Regions from separate parts of the Homo sapiens genome. Here region 1 is linked to region 2. The links come from fine-mapping of genetic effects on gene expression. A gene starts in region 2. The other region holds a variant in brackets. All regions are shown on one strand. Distances are from middle to middle.

The links. PIP is the estimated chance that this variant, and not a neighbour inherited with it, causes the effect. A credible set is the group of variants that fine-mapping cannot tell apart.
Region 1: its variant is the best candidate, but not a certain one, in a credible set for the expression of ATP13A5-AS1 in testis (GTEx, PIP 0.64).

What each region holds. Positions count from the first base shown.
Region 1 is chr3:192,380,133-192,383,060 of GRCh38, forward strand. All of the region lies in intron 2 of FGF12 (fibroblast growth factor 12), which reads right to left. Among named protein-coding and RNA genes, the nearest start is that of FGF12-AS2, 130 kb to the right of the region's middle. The variant G/A (reference allele first, on the strand shown) is at 1,641.
Region 2 is chr3:193,305,884-193,308,811 of GRCh38, forward strand. It overlaps ATP13A5-AS1 (ATP13A5 antisense RNA 1), which reads left to right and starts at 1,361. Exons shown (of 2, transcript NR_046758.1): 1 at 1,361-1,517. It overlaps ATP13A5 (ATPase 13A5), which reads right to left. Exons shown (of 30, transcript NM_198505.4): 22 at 1,444-1,486.

The sequences.
Region 1 (2,928 bases), 930 kb before region 2:
GTAATAATTAATATCCACTAATAATTAAATAGATGATGTCTAGTTTCAGTTCCAGGTGTCCAAGTTTCCCTTCCTTGTCTCATTAAGAATTACAATTTACTGCACTGCAGATAAACCTTTAGGCAAAGCATATTTCATCTGTTTGCTTAATGGACTGGTGTCTTCTTAAAATTCAGAGTTCTAGACTTAATATTGGTTGTGAGATAATTTATGGTTGATTTCAACATTTTCTATCTCATTGGAAAAATTTCCAGGCTTATTTCAAAGCTTGAAACCTTACCAACTTTCATTTGCCTGAATGAAAACATAACAAACCACATTCTAGAATCTAGCAAAGAAAGTATAGATGGTGGCTAATAGAGTATAAGTTCATGAGAGAGAAAAAATAATCTAACTATAAATAAATGCTCTACACCATAAAACACTATCAAATGGTAACAATTATGTTATTTCAGAAATAGTGTTTATGTACAGAAATTCTAATTTCTGATAGCAAGATAGTAAGGCAAAATCAGAAAAACCTGCCCCTGATTGTCCAATAAAAAGTAGAGTACAACTTGTTAGATTTCATAGCACATTGTTGACAATAGTCACCTCATTTCACCAGAATGGCTTTCTCTCCCTTGGATCTAATAGCAAGGGAAAGAATGCTGAGTTTCATGCCTAGGCCAGTACTATCCAACAGTAATATAATGCAAACCCCACGTAAGTATTTTAAAACATTTCTAGTACTCATTTTTAAACAAGCACAATATACAGGTGAAAGTGTATATTCTATTTATATAGAGTATATATTTATATACAGTATTCTATTTATATATAGTATATATTTAATGACTTGTTCTATTTAACATAATGTATCCCAAATTAGTAGTGAATATAGAAATTATTGCAATATCATACATTCATTTTCTTCATGCTAAGTCTTCAAAACACACTGTGTATTTTGCAATCACAGTATATCTCAGTTCAACTAGCCACTTTCAAGTGCTCAAAAGCCACATGTTGCTAGTGGCTACCATATTATACAGCACAGACCTAGGTGGTTGGACATCTTGACAGACACATTTCTCCAAACAGCACCCGACCATCTATTATACAAAGCAACAATGATCTTGAAGACTTTGTTAATACTGATAACAACAAGGTACAGGTAATCAAAGACCACGTACATTCTGAAAAATACGCACCAAATAAGGTGCAAGCAAAAATTATATCCTAAACCTACTGCCTGCCTGCCTTCATTCCTTCCATCCTAACCTTGATCTTTCCTTCCACCAATACCCTGGTCTTGATACCACGCCAAGGAACACAACTATGAACAAGGCGGTATGGCTAGTGTCCTCGTGAAATTGACCCTCTTGTCAGAAAGAAACTAAATAAATAATGCCACAATCAGTTATTATAATTACAAATATGAGAAGTGTTCTGAAGGAGTCCTGGCTGCTATGGAGGATAAACCTCACCAAACCCTAGGGCGTCAAAAATGGCTCCCTCAGGATAGAACATTGAAGATGAGTGTAAAGAAAAAGAAGGAATTAGCTAGAGGAAGTGAGTACGTGTCAGAAAAAATGAGGAGTAAAAAATAATAACACTCCACACAAGGACAGAAGTAAAAGAAAAGGTTCAAAGTCAGAAAC[G/A]ACTTTTTGGTGAATTTTTTTGGTGAATTTAAACAACTGAAAGTGTGGAGTTCAGAGACCAAGAGTCTGGACAGTGGCCCAAAGAGGAGTTCAGATCATTCAGAATGTTACAGAGCAAGGCGGAAGAAGCAGTGTGAAAGCAAGGGTCATTTGGGAAATTCTGAATGGAAAAAGTCAGACACATAGGACATATAGGGAGTGTTATGTAGACTAGCATAACACTTTTTTTTTTTTTCTTTTTTGAGATGGAGTCTCGCTCTGTCACCCAAGCTGGAGTGCAGTGCTGCGATCTCAGCCCACTGCAACCTCCACCTTCCGGGTTCAAGCCATTCTCCTGCCTCAGCCTCCTGAGTAGCTGGGACTACAGGCATGTGCCAACACGCCCAGCTAATTTTTTGTATTTTTCGTAGAGAAGTGGTTTCCCCGTGTTAGCCAGGATGGTCTCGATCTCGACCACGTGATCCACTCACCTCAGACTCTCAAAGTACTGGGATTACAGGTGTGAGCCACCGCGCCCGGCCTAGCATAACACTTTTTATTGAGCTTGTACATCAATCAAATGCTATGCTATAGTCCATCTACACTCAGGCTGATCACCCTGTACCCATTTTGCCAATGGTGTAGAACTTCAAATATATAGCCATAAAACCTAAACACCATTGCACAAATGTAGCCTTTGATTTTATCTACCTTTGTCCTAGAATAATGGCCTTTCTTCGCTTACCAATTCTTAGTGTGGTCTTCTCTATTACCTATAGCAATAAAAAAAAAATACGTTGGTATAAAAAACAAAGTCAGTCACACAAAACAGCTGGTTTACCCAAGCAATAACATGTTTTTTCCTTCCTTTGCTATAATATAGAGCAAGTAATCAAACAAAAGAGATTGGTTCTAAATAAATTAAAATTGTGTGACAGTCATAATTCATAATTATATAAGGTATATTCATCATTTCCCTTTAATAAGTTGTATTACCCCAAAATATATAATTATTAAATTTGAATGTAAATTACCCTGTAAAATGAATGCCTATATTTAAAACTTTTCACTTTTATGAGGAGTAATGGCAAGTCATTGAAAAGTTTTAAGCATAAGAATGATATCTAATCTGTATTTTAAAAGCTCAGTAGAGACTGATAACGAGAGAACAGATAGGAGGATGAGCAGGGAGACAAGTGAGAAAGTAACAACACGGCCAGTCAAGAGATGCCAGTGACTAGTTTGTGAAGATGTAAAATTGTCTTGACTTAGTTATTAATTGCATGTGGGCAGAAAGGGAAATGTGTGG
Region 2 (2,928 bases):
TGTGTACATGCATGCGTGTGTGCATGTGGGCATGTGCATACAAGGGCCCTGCCTGTGGGGATTATAGATGTGAAAAGGAGATGGAAGCCCTCATTCAAAAACTCAATTAAAAAGATGACAGAATTTGGATGGACGTTGGTTGGGGACCTTCACCGTTTCAGTTCTTGTACCTGGTGGGAATCTTCATGAACAAAGGTGAAAGAATTCCTAGGCCGATCCTATAAGAATTGTGTGGGCATAAAATGAACTTTTATATATCTGTAGTTCCACAGAACTACAGAGTACCTGGCGCCATGAGTACATACTAGATTCAGGTTTAATAAATAATAGGACATTTTCTTCTTCCTCTTTGATCTCTAGTTCGTATCTCTATTATGTACTTTAGGACCATCTACTTTATGTTAGGGTTAGTTTTATTCATGATTCTTTCTTCATCAGACAATGAACTCTTTAGGAGGCAGAGACTATGTCCCTTTTTGCATTTGATTTTTTTGTTTTATTCTAAACGCCACATAATTAATGTGAGAGGATACGTATTCTAGATTTGAAAGAACAGACTAAAAATTAGCTTTTTCTCATGAAACATAAAGCAAAAAACATCTCTAGCTATAAAAATTTCTAGCTATAAACACAGTTTTCACAGAAATTTGGAAATAATATTTAAGAGAGAAATAAAACAAATACCAAGATCTTAAATCTCTAATAAGCTTTGGAAATACAAAGAAATCTTCCTCACTTCTTGTCCCATAAATCAGCTACTGAAATATTTCCTTAAGTACATAATCTTGAAGGTAGACTATTTGTTTCCTTCATGTCTTTAAAACTCAGAATATAAAACATTCACTGCCCTTCTACTGCATATGAAAAATAATTTGCTGATAATCATTTTATTTAGCTTTTTCTATAGCATAAAATAACTAAATAGTTTGGTCTAGGATTTTACTGAGTGAAAGAGTTCTGGGTGAAGCAAACTTAAAAACTAACCAGAGAATGAAAGTTTGGCAGGAATAAATATAATTTACATATAATTCAAAACTTTAATCATCAGTTTCAAACTTCGTTTCATTGAGTCTTTATCAGTTGTGTGACCTTGGGAGGGGGGAAGAAATCACCTCCTTGAGAAATCATTTCATTACTGATAACAGGAAAGATTTAAAGCAGATAGACTTGTAAAGTTCCATCTTTGGAACCTGAAATATGGGAGTCTAAGTAGCCTTCCTTTGTGTTTATTATTCTAGGAGTTTCCAGAAAGCATCGGAAGTGTCTCATCTCCCTTTACTCCCCTCCGCTTCCAACCCACACTCAGGTAGAGGTGGATATAAACAGCAAAATAATCAAATGGTTGCTGGTGGAAGGATGAAGAGACAAACCCCAGGAGAGCCTGAGGTCCTCCAGAGGGATATTAGTGAGTGGCTTGTCTGAGCAAAAGCCATTTCTACTCACCCCACAGTCGTTAGCTCCATCTCCACACATGCCCACATAATAACTGCGGGAGACAGGAGAAGAAGGATTAATAGGTAAGAAAAATGAACAGCTCACTTGAATATTTTCCATCATAACTAAGTCACATGTGATTTGTGTGTATGTGTGTGTCCCCTGAACACACCTGGAATCAGGCTGAAGAAAAATGGTTTGGAGAGACATATTCCCAGAGGGAAAAGGCAGTTGCGTTATTTAAGTTGTTTCAATCAATCACATTGAAATGGTAGTGATATAACCAAGGACATCGGCAAAACAGTGATTGCACACTTTAAAAGAAGTCCTGCTTGATGATACGCACCAAGGCCAAGCTTAAGAGTATGCAGTCATGAGCAGAGCACTTCCCACACAACCTAATGCAGAGATCATAACCCAATCCAGCTGCATTTTAGTCACTGACTGTTGCTGAGCATTTACAGCTCAAATACCAGGATGAGAAATTTCAAAAACAGTTTAACAGATATAACTAGAGACATATATTCATATTTTTGATGCATGTCAGGGTGAAAATAAGATATGTTTTCCATCTATATCAGTTTGGTGTGCAAGCACAATACAAATAGAAGAGTAAAAATTAATACGGCTGCCAAAGAAAAGGAGTTTCAGATGTAAGACACTGCCTGCCTTCTATTATAAGTTATACATTATAAGTATTGATAAATGACAATATTCTTAAAGACTTAGCTGCATTTTTCTAAAAACAGAGTTATGAAATCAATAAGGAGAAAAAATAAAGTTTTGTTAGCGTTTCGTTATTATTAGTTAATGCATAAGAAACAACCACTTTTATAGGTCAAAAACAGTTAATTAAATGTGGCCAGGCACGGTGGCTCACACCTGTAATCCCAGCATTTTGGGAGGCTGAGGCAGGCGGATCTTGAGGTCAGGAGTTCGAGACCAGCCTAGCCAACACAGTGAAACCCCATCTCTACTAAAGATAGAAAAAATCAGCTGGGCATGGTGGTGTGCTCCTGTAATCTCAGCTACTTGGGAGGCTGAGGCAGGGGGATTGCTTGAACCTTGGAAGCGGAGGCTGCGGTGAGCCGATATTGCACCGCTGCACTCCAGCCTGGGCAACAAAGCGAGACTCTGTCTCAAAAACAAAAAAAAGTCAAATGTAGGCACACCCCTATGGTTCAATCCGATACTGGGCTGTGTAGATGAAAATAATCATGCTATATATGTTCATGTCATGACTACCCACAATTGTTGAAAAATGGCTCCTTCTTTCAGGCTTAAAGCACATATTTAGTCTCTATATCACATCAAGAATCTTATCATCTTCTAGTATTCCCTGAATTCAGAAAGAGAATGCAGACAGCCTTATGCACATTGCCAATGACAAAGGCATGAGGAGGAAGATTGGGATGTTGAGAAGACAGCTCATTCTGAGGCAGTGTGTGTCTTCCTGAATTCATTTTTTAAGGGGAATATGGCTTTTCAAAGTTA